Linked DNA regions of Homo sapiens. The protein of the gene in region 1 binds, or shares a complex with, the protein of each later gene. Each region holds a gene or a part of one and is shown on either strand. Other genes may lie near its edges. The genes, in order: PRPF8, LSM3 and PRPF6.

The links.
Region 2: PRPF8 (region 1) and LSM3 share a complex: the UniProt entries of both Homo sapiens proteins name them as parts of the U4/U6-U5 tri-snRNP complex.
Region 3: PRPF8 (region 1) and PRPF6 share a complex: the UniProt entries of both Homo sapiens proteins name them as parts of the U4/U6-U5 tri-snRNP complex.

Annotation. Positions count from the first base shown.
Region 1 is NC_000017.11:1,653,778-1,657,427, forward strand, and holds part of PRPF8 (pre-mRNA-processing-splicing factor 8), read right to left. Parts: intron 2,985-3,650; coding exon 2,871-2,984; intron 2,789-2,870; coding exon 2,615-2,788; intron 1,767-2,614; coding exon 1,573-1,766; intron 240-1,572; coding exon 1-239. UniProt on the Homo sapiens protein: Plays a role in pre-mRNA splicing as core component of precatalytic, catalytic and postcatalytic spliceosomal complexes, both of the predominant U2-type spliceosome and the minor U12-type spliceosome.
Region 2 is NC_000003.12:14,185,211-14,188,860, reverse strand, and holds part of LSM3 (U6 snRNA-associated Sm-like protein LSm3), read right to left. Parts: intron 1-3,650. UniProt on the Homo sapiens protein: Plays a role in pre-mRNA splicing as component of the U4/U6-U5 tri-snRNP complex that is involved in spliceosome assembly, and as component of the precatalytic spliceosome (spliceosome B complex).
Region 3 is NC_000020.11:64,001,528-64,005,177, forward strand, and holds part of PRPF6 (pre-mRNA-processing factor 6), read left to right. Parts: intron 1-3,650. UniProt on the Homo sapiens protein: Involved in pre-mRNA splicing as component of the U4/U6-U5 tri-snRNP complex, one of the building blocks of the spliceosome.

The DNA.
Region 1 (3,650 bases):
TGACCCTCCACTCAGTCTTGGATGAGAAAGTCTGGGTCTCATAGTTGCTGGTGGTGGAGGTGATGATCTCATCGCCATGCTTGTTGACAGTGCGAGTCTGTGTTGCCGTCAGCTGCGATTGTTCCTTGGTCTGCTTCTCGATCTCAGCGATCTGCTGCCGCTGCTGTGACGGTGCCGAGATCTCCATACCCAGGATGATGTCTCGAATTTCTGATTGTGTCAGTGATGCCACGTTCACACTGTGGGGATGGTGTGGGTTATATTACAAGGATCCCTTCCCCTTGGTCACTTCTGCCTCAATGGAAAGGGTGTAACTTGGTAGGACAGGACAGCCTATACTCACGCCCCAGACAATCCACAAGAGCTGCTTCTACAGGAAGTGTGAAACGGAGGTGCACTAACACTTCCAAGATTCGTCAGATCCAAGCGGGACAGCACACTGCGTGTGCACCTTCCCACTGTTTAGCATCCATAAACCCTACGCTTCCTTGACCAAAACAATGCTCTGGCATGGAACTGTTCTCAGAAATGGAAACCCCAGAAACCCTAGAATACTGGTTCTTAATCAGAGGTGGTATTGTCCGTCACCCTATGGATAATTTTGGTTGCCACGATGACAGGGAGGGAGACGAGGGGAGGAAGGTGTGTGTGTGTGTTGGCAGCAGTCTCGGATACTTAGGGTCTCGGATGTTCAAAATTCTTCCCATGTATGGACAGTAAAGAAATGCCCTGTTTGAAATGGCAACAGTGAGAAACAATGGCCAAGAGTCAGACTGAAGCCCTAAAACAGGGATGCTTCCCATACTATTCGAAGACACTGCTGTATCTCTCTTCCTCGAGACTCTGTAAGATAATTTCTTTCCTTGTTTTCAAGACAAGAGTCTCGCTCTGTTACCCAGGCTGGAGTACAGTGGCATCATCATGGCTCACTGCAGCCTCAAACCCCCGGGCTCAAGCAAGCCTCCTGCCTCAGCCTCCAAGAAGCTGGGACTACAAGCGTGTACCACCACACCTGTTTTAAATTTTTTTTTTTTGGTAGAGATGGCGTCAGTCTCTTGTTGATCAGGCTGGTTTCAACTCCTGGCTCATGCAATCCTCCCACCTTGGCCTCCCAAAGTGCTGGTATTACTAGCATGAGCACTCAAGCCTGGCTAAGACAAGATAATTTCTTGAGAAACGTCTTTTTTTTTTTTTTTTTTGGAGACAGTCTCACTCTTGTCGCCCAGGCTGGAGTGCAGTGGCATGATCTCGGCTCACTGCAACCTCTGCCCCCAGGTTCAAGCAATTCTCCTGCCTCAGCCTCCCGAGTAGCTGGGATTACAGGTAGGCGCCATCGCACCCGGCTAACTTTTGTATTTTTAGTAGAGACGGAGTTTCACCACGTTGGCCAGGATGGTTTCAAACTCCTGACCTCAAATGATCTACCCACCTTGGCCTCCCAAAGTGCTGGGATTACAGGCATGAGCCACCGCGCCTGGCCTTCTTGAGAAACTTCTAAGCCTAAGTGCTTCCAAAAAACCCCAGAAAACCGTATATAGACCTCCTGTCTGTGTCCCCACCAGCACTGCTCACTTGTTTTTCTTGCCGTAGTCAGCCAAGATCAGATCCTTGAGCTGCACCTCGACCTTGATCCATTCTTCGTCAGTCAGAGTGGGCCAGATGTGGTGTGGTTCTGTAATAGTAGTCTTGTCTGGCTTCAGGATCACTTTTGCCCGATCGTTGTTCACATGTAGGGCACGCAGAATCAGGATGAGACGGGAGAAGGCCTGGGAAAAGATTTGGAAGAGTGGGGTAGGTCAGCTGCTTGAGGCTCTCCCACTTTAATCCTAACCTTTCATGAAACCCAAGAATTTTTTTTTTTTCTTTTGAGACAGAGTCTTGCTCTGTCGCCCAGGCTGGAGTGCAGTGGCATGATCTCGGCTCACTGCAAGCTCCGCCTCCCAGGTTCATACCATTCTCCTGCCTCAGCCTCCCGAATAGCTGGGATGACAGGCACCTGCCACCACGCCCGGCTAATTTTTTGTATTTTTAGTAGAGATGGGGTTTCACTGTGTTAGCCAGGATGGTCTCAATCTCCTGACCTCGTGATCCGCCGCCTCGGCCTCCCAAAGTGCTGGGATTACAGGCGTGAGCCACTGCGCCCGGCCTTTTTTTTTTTTTTTTTAGACAGTCTTACTCTGTCGCCCAGGCTGGAGTGCAATGGTGCCATCTCGGCTCACTGCAACCTCTGCCTCCTGGGTTCCAGTGATTCTGGTGCCTCAGCCTCCCGAGTAGCTGGGACTACAGGTGCATCCCAGCACACTCGGCTAATTTTGTTGTATTTTTAGTAGAGATGGGGTCTCGTCATGTTGGCCAGCCTGATCTCAAACTCCTGACCTCAGGTGATTCACCCAACTCAGCCTCCCAAAGTGCTGGGATTACGGGCGTGAGCCACCACGCCCGGCCCCAAGAGTTGATTTTTAACTTTAAGGTCTTAAACTCTCATGAAAGTCAACAGAGTTCCCACCCAATCTATAGGCTAAAAATGTGAAAATGGCAAAAACCTGACACAGGATCTTCTCCTAACCCTAAACCCGCTCCTCCTCCAGCGATCTTCTCTTCCCGAGGTTCATACCGTGTAAGATGAAATAGTCTTGAGCCAGTCGTCATAGAGGTTGAAGAGAACCATCTGGGGCTCAGTGGCTTTAAGGATGAGATCCCCGAATTTTTCCACCTTGAGACACGCCTGGAAAGGGAGTTGGAGCTCCGATCCTTTGATGACAATATTGGGGAAGTCCAGTAAGTGCACCTAAGACAAGATCAAGTCCAAGATGAGAAACAGCCTGAAGGTCTCAAGGTCTCTTTTCTCCTACCCCACCCCACCCTCTTACCTCCAGTGGGTCCAGCATGCCCTTCCTGGTGACAATGATCTGCTTGGGCTGCTCCTCCACAGGCAGAGATCGGATCAGGGCGGCCACCTCCTCAGCTGTCTTCCACTTAGCCAACTTAAAAGCAAGAGAGAAGAAAATGGAAATTTAGTCTCTACCCTCCCAGATCAACTAGAACAGAATATCCTAGTTTTGAAATAATCCAACTACGTTTCTATTGAACACTGATGTTAAATGTTAGGCACTTAGAAGGTACAAAGAGTATCAAATGGCCGTGTCCAATGACCAGGCTGACAGCCCCTTTCAACAAGACAATACCACAAGCTGACACATGAGTATGTGCTAAACTATACACTGTTTTACAGAGTTCAGGAACAAAAGAAATTAAGGCTACTAGGATCAGAAAAAAGCTGCACAAAAAAACGTGTCTTAAGGAGGGACTGTGATTAACAGAGCAAAGAGGGGAGTTCATTCTAGAAAGAAAAATACAAGCAAAACACAGATTTGGAGATGAGCATCAGGGGTTTGGGCTACTAAGATCCTGGACTGAATGTAAGATGAAACATGCTATAAATGTAAAGGAAGAGAAACTGGCTGGACAGATACAGCCCAGCCAGATGTTGAACGTCTAGGAAGCTAAAGAAGAGTTAATTCAGCAAGAGTTGTGAGGTAGAGAAGAGATTTGGTCAAAGTGGATGTTTCAAGAATATGCGTTGCTGGGCCGGGCACGGTGGCTCAAGCCTGTAATCCCAGCACTTTGAGAGGCCAAGGCGGGCGGATCAC
Region 2 (3,650 bases), on another chromosome or scaffold:
CTGCACGTTATGCACATGTAATCCAGAACTTAAAGTATAATTAAAAAAAAAGATAAAGATAAAATTATTTACAGCAGAATAGGTTTTACTAGCAAAATATTGGAAATGGCTATCTGTCCATCAACAGGAAAACAGTTAAATTATGGTACATCTACACAGTGAAGTACCATAAAGCTAAAAACGAAAGCACAAGGAAGCTATGTATGAAAGGGAAAGAGCACTGTGATAAAAAAACAGGGGAAGGGAGAATAACTAACACTCATTAGCATATGCATAAAGACACGAGAAGATTCTCAAGAAACCAGTAATAGTGCTTATGTCTGGGGGTGGGGTGTAAAGATGATGAACAGAGGCTGGAGTGGAAGACATTTTACTGCACTGTGTTCCTTTCTGCATTTTGTAATTTTAAGACTGTGTGAGTCTAGTATCTATTCAAAAAGTTAAATTAAAATGGAAGCAATTTAAAATGAGTAAGAAAAGAAATATGTGTTAAGTACTATACGGTGATATGGACCATATGGTCTCAGCATGGACCATAAAGAGTTAGTTATGTATGAGGGAGCAGGTCTAGAGCTGCTCTAATATGAGTGCCACTAGTCACAGGTGGCTCATTAAATTAAAATTAAATAAAATTAAATGTGCAGTTCCTTAATCACACCAGCATCCATTTGAAGTGCCAAATAGCCACATGTGGCTCATAGCTCCTGTAATGACAGCATAGATAGAAATTTTCACTGCTGCAGACAGTTCTATTATTACAGTGCTAATCTACAGAAAGGTCTAGAAGAGCCATCTGATGCTGTAGAAGGCCTTCGGGCAAGCAGAGGGAGCAGAGGGCTTAGTTACAAAAGGGCACAACGTCCCCAAGAGAAACTGTCTGGTGAGCCAAACTACGAGGTGTTTGGTGAAGGAAGGTAGTACACATGATGGACAGCCGAAAAAGTAGTCTGGGTCAAATAACACAGACTGTTCACAATCTGTAAAATGGAAACTCCAATTATGGAGGACCAAGAATCAGAAGAGTAAGACTGACTGCTTTCCACCTTCCCATTTATAAGTCAGCAGCCAAATTAATTATTTAGAAGTCAATTATGTAAGTTATAGGGGGAAAAAAACCCAACAACCTGATGGTTTATGGGTCCCCCATACTGTTTTGGTGGTAAAACGTTGATGTTCATTAGTTATTTCAATAGACGAGAGAGAGAGCGAAATGTAAAATGGGCCAAGGTAAGAAACCATTTAGTCTGGTTTCCCATCTTGGAGAGGAGTAACAAGAGCGCACAGGAGAGTGAAGTAGTTGTTCTCCATGGCACTGAACCAGATGCAGACACTCTCTATAATATCACTGTCTTTGCTTTCTATGTCTATAGTTAATACACATTTACACACTAAAGTATTCTCAGTCATCCAAAGATTCAATTTTAAATGTTTTACCCAATACATCATGGCAATGTGAAAAAGAACTCATTAACTAAATAGACTTTGCTTACTGTTCTCAGCTGCAACTCTAGGCGCAAGAGAGGCCACATGCACGCAGCACGCAGCGTTCAGGAGCTAACCAGCCCCAGTAGCCTTTCAAGGCAGCAATTAATCTTAATGGAGGTCAGTAACTACTGAGACTCTGTTACAGACACCCCACCCAGAGAAATGCACATGTGCACAGACACATAGCACCTTCAAACAGTGTCAGGAGGAACCGCACTTGGAGCAGACTACTAGGGATGACACAGGTGGACCCTGCTGTTAGTTCACTGCAAACATGGAGTAAGTGGCAGTGTTCCCTTCTCTGTAATAGACACCACAGTTGAAGAGTCATTTCTGTCACAAGCAGAATTCAAGACAAGAGCATTAAAATGCTTATGAAGAGTCTACTCTCATGGTAAAATTCTTATGTTAATGATGTTACATGAATAAAGCAGAATATTAAAGCCACATATTCCATATTTTATCACATTTAAGGTATCATTTGTAAGCTTAGTTGAGCTGAAAAAGGATAAATTTTGCCAATTAAACTATGACACAATTCTTTTTTTATCACATCACCTGTAAGATGCAATCAGATTTTTAAGATGCTAAAATTTAAGAAAAAGTGCATCTTAGTACTTATGATTGTGTCCATGTTAAGAAAACAATAACCACTAAACAATAGTTAATAAATGAAATTCCTAAAGGGGAAAAAATGCAGATTTTAAAAAATGCTATTCTTTCTTGGAGAAATAAGCCAGCAAAAATACATAAATAAATAAGTAAAAATTTTAAAAAAAGAAAAAAATGCTAAATGTTTACACTCAGAAGGAGAAAGAACACTAGCAAAGGAGTCAGGTGTGGTCAGAGAGAGGAGGAAAGCCAGGATAAAGCAGAACTACAAAATCCAGTGAAGGCTAACAGTTTAACAGTGACAACGTGCCTGTCACTATCTGAAGGCTTTTCATGTAGCCCTCAATGAATCCTCCACAGTTGTATGAAGTGGGTCCTATCATTACTCCCATTTTACAGACAAGGAAACATATCCACAGACAGGTTAGGTGAGCTGGCTCAATTAAAAAGGTGGTAAGCAAGGGAGTCAAAATTTGAATCCATGTAGTCTTGTACTCTGAGCCCACATTTTAACCACTATGCCCTGGCAGGGTCAGAAACTGTCTTTCCAAATCTTAAAGACCTTTCTTTCTGCTACGGCCTGGCATAGTGGCTCCCACCTGTAATTCCAGCACTTTGGGAGGCCAGGAGTTCGAGACCAGCCTGGCCAACATGGTGAAACCTGTCTTTACTAAAAACACAAAAATTAGCTGGGCGTGGTGGCACATGCCTGTAATCCCAGCTACTTTGGAGGCTGAGGCACGAGAATTGCTTGAACCTGGGAGGCGGAGGCTGCAGTGAGCTGAGACTGACATTGCACTCCAGCCTGGGTGACACAGTCAGACTGTCTTTAAAAAAAAAAAAAGACCTTTCTGACAAGATCACTGGTGATAACTAATAAATGTGATTTTTTTTAAACACTGAAGAAATAAAATGAATCTGCATAGCCCAGTGAACTACTATTTTCTAAAGAACCAGTGCCTGATGTAACCAAATCATGCATGAGTAAGAGATCCATTTGAGGTGCAAGGCAGATTAATGAATTTTCACCTAACAAGAGTACGAAAAGTTTACTGTTACCGTTTCAGATTCCAGATGGCAAATAATCTTTGACTGACTACCACTTGTTCAGTTTGGGTGTAGTATCAAAGGTAGAACATTCACAAAACAAACTCCTTCCTTTCCAACTACCTATCTGTGTGGTCAGATTTGCTTCAATTACAACAACAACTCATGATAGATTTAACGCAGAAAAAAGATATGAGAATCTTCTAGCTGTTATCGATTAAGCGGGGCATTAAAGAGATTTGCAAAAATGTAAAACAAAGACATTCCTCATTAAAATTTTGTTTTAGAAAATAGTTATTGTTCATAAAAATGTTACTTACAGTAACACGTGATAGGTTTTTTTTTGTTTTGTTTTGTTTTGTTTTGAGACAGAGTCTTACTCTGTCCCCCAGGCTGGAGTACAGTAGCACGATCTCAGCTTACCGCAACCTCTACCTCCCAGGTTCAAGTGATTCTCCTGCCTCAGCCTCCCGAGTAGCTGGGATTGCCAGTGCCTGCCGCCACGG
Region 3 (3,650 bases), on another chromosome or scaffold:
CATCTGCAGGGTGAGAACAACGGTAGCTCAAAGCCTGTGTCCTGGGGCTCTGGAGATGGTCTGTGTGAAGAGCTGAGCCGGCACCTGGCACGTGCAGACCCGTTGTGGGTGTTACTCATTTTCTCTCCTGAGAAGGCACCAGAGCCACACGTTGATTGAACTCTTTCCTGCTGCTGACGAGGCTGTGCCTTCTGCTCCCGCGATGCAGCGTGTGCCGTCAGCTCAGGTCAGATAACGACAGACGGTGTGCCTACCAGGCAACCTGATTCCATCCAGGGATTCCTGCCAGGGTAGAGCTTTTGTGGGTAGTTTGTTTATTTTTATTACTGTGGATTCATAAAAGGAGCACTGTTTCTCCTGTCACTGGAAGTGTGTAGTAGATGCTGCTCTTGAACTGGGTCCAGAACGAGTGCTAGTCAGGGGGCTGTTCTGAAGCTAATCTGTGCAGGTGGCTTCTTTTTTTTCATTTTTTGTTTTTTTTTTCTGGTTTTTTTTTTTTTTTTTTTTTTGAGATGGAGTCTCGCCCTGTCGCCCAGGCTGGAGTGCAGTGGCGTGATCTCGGCTCACTGCAAGCTCCGCCTCCCGGGTTCACACCATTCTCCTGCCTCAGCCTCCTGAGTAGCTGGGACTACAGGCGCCTGCCACCACGCCTGGCTAATTTCTTTTTGTATTTTTAGTAGAGATGGGGTTTCACTGTGTTATCCAGGATGGTCTCGATCTCTTGGCCTTGTGATCTGCCTGCCTCGGCCTCCCAAAGTGCTGGGATTCCAGGCGTGAGCCACTGCACCTGGCCTATGCAGGTGGCTTCTATCCATTTTTTTTTTTTTAGACAGAGTCTCGCTTTGTCGCCCAGGCTGGAGTACAGGGGCACGATCTTGGCTCACTGCAGCCTCTGCCTCCCGGGTTCAAGTGATTCTCCTGCCTCAGCCTCCCGAGTAGCCGGGATTACAGGTGTGCGCCTCCATGCCTGGCCAATTTTTGTATTTTTAGTAGAGATGGGGTTTCCCCATGTTGGCCGGGCTGGTCTCAAACTCCTGACCACAAGTGATCCTCCTGCCTTGGCCTCCCAAAGTGCAGGGATTACAGGCGTGAGCCCCTGTGCCTGGCCTTTTCTTTTCTTTTTTTTTTTTTTTTGAGATGGAGTCTCACTTTGTCCCCCAGGCTGGAGTGCAATGGCACCATCTTGGCTCACTGCAACCTCCGCCTCCTGGGTTTAAGCAATCCTCTTGCCTCAGCCTTCTGAGGAGCTGGGACTACAGGCACCTGCCACCACGCCTGCTTAATTTTTGTATTTTTAGTAGAGACGGGGTTTCACTGTGTTGACCAGGCTGGTCTTGAACTTCTCACCTCAAGTGATCCACCCACCTCGACCTCCCAAAGTGCTGGGATTACAGGCGTGAGCCACTGTGCCCGGCCAGATTTTTTTTTTTTTTTTGAGACAGCGTCTTGCTCTGTCACCCAGGCTGGAGTGCAGTGGCACGATCTTGGCTCACTGCAGCCACCACCTCCCAGGCTCAGGCGATCCTCCCAGCTTAGCCTCCCAAGTAGCTGGGAGTATAGGTCCCACCCCCATGCCCAGCTATTTTTAATTTTTGGTAGAGATGGGATCTTGCTGTGTTGTCCAAGCTTGTCTCAAACTCCCATCCTCAAGTGATCCTCCTGCCTTGATCTCCCAGAGAGCTGGGATTACAGGCATCAGCCGTCGCATCCAGCCTATTCTTCCTGAATTTATAGCCTAGGAAAAATAAAGTGTATTTTATGGAATCAAGGGCAGTTTTCAGTGAGAGCTTTCCAGCTCTTGTTTTTCCAAATGTCTTTAAGCGAAATATCCCATTGAGGCTTCTGTGCTGATAGGACCGTGCAGATGAGGGCTCTTTGGTAGAAAGCCCCTTATCAAATATAGTTTCATTCACTTACTGTCTACGTCTGTTAGAAGACAGGTGAAGGCTGCTTGCCTGTGATGCATGTTCCCCCGACCCTGTGCACTCACATGTGAACGTGCTTTCCTCTGTCGAGGCTGGTTTCTTGACCGCAGCCCAGCTGCTCAGTGAATGCTCAGAGACAGCCTCTTTTATTTTTTTTTATTGAGACAGAGTCTCGCTCTGTCGCCCAGCCTGGAGTGCAGTGGCACGACCTCGGCTCTCTGCAAGCTCCGCCTCCCAGGTTCACGCCATTCTCCTGCCTCAGCCCCCCAAGTAGCTGGGACTACAGGCGCCCGCCACCAGGCCTGGCTAATTTTTTTTTGTATTTTTATTAGAGATGGGGTTTCACCATGTTAGCCAGGATGGTCTTGATCTCCTGACCTCATGATCCACCCGCCTCGGCCTCTCAAAGTGCTGGGATTACAGGCGTGAGCCACCGCGCCCGGCCAGAGACAGCGTCTTATAATGAGGTGGCCAGGAACAGAAAGTTAGCACCTGTCTGGGTTTGTAGAAATCAGTTTATCTTTTTTCAGCTAGGAAGAAATAGTTCTTTGATGAAGAGCCCATGAAAGTCTGGGTAATTAGTATTGTTTACTTAGAAAAGCTCTATTGAATTCTTCCTGCCACAGTTTGATGAATGATCATGAATGTCTTTGTGGCCACTCCCTGCTCACCACCAGATTGTCTGGGTTCATTTCCAGTTGGTTTGGATTTGGAGATGGGAGTATGCTGTTGGAGGCGGGGGCCTTCGGGGAGTGTTGAGGGACTGTGTTTCCACGGCTGTTCTCTCAGGGAGTGGCCTCCTGGCTGTGCTCTCTCAGGCAGAGAAGCTGGGCTAAGGTGGAATGAACCCAGGATCTCCAGGATGGCCTTTGCCGCTGCCCTAATACTGGTCCTGGCCTGCCCTTTCCCAAGAGTGTTTCCAAAAACTGTATTCTTTTCCTGGGGTGAAGCCCAGCACTGCTTCATTTGGTTATTAGCAAACACTTACACGTTGCTTGAAGGGTCTGGTTTTTGAAATTAAGATGACAGCTACTTCCACTGGTGACTTAGGACACCTGCCAGCCAGGGAGCCTGGCAGTGCATGGTCTCTGTGAGCTCTGGGTCGCTGTTGGGCTGAGCTGACACCTTAGTCCTTTGTTGGGAGAATGGGCGTTTTGGGTGCTGATCTTGAGACCTGAGGAGGCTGAGTAACCTTAGGCATGGTGCTTGGCCTCTGAGCTTCCATGTCTTCCTCTGTAAAAGGGAAGAGGGCTTTCAGGATTGGGGAGGGTGCAGCATGTGAGCTTCCTGGCCAGGGTGGGGTGTCCCACGTGCAGAGTCCCCTGGGGAGGCCCGACTGGCAGCTCCCCTACAATAATGCACTCACATGCTGTGTACTCCGCTAGTTAATGCAGATGTGTGGAAGTGGAGTTATTTTACACTAACGCCATATGCTCTGGCCTGTGAAGCGTGGCATCCTTCAGTGGCCGTCGCCAGCGTGTCCCTCTGGGGGCACAGGAATGGCACAGTTCAGGTTGAGGGTCTTCCCTGCAGTCACGTGACCCCCGGAGAGCATGTTGGCCTCTGCACGGTCACGTCTTCATGGCTGTGTCTAGCATTCAGAATACTCTTCTGTTCTAGGCCAACTTCAGGGGTGTGTGCTTCCTCCACTTCTGCTCATAAAGTCACACTCCTTGAAGGCCATTGTATCATGGTGTGCCATGTGGCTTCCGAAAGCACCTGGGG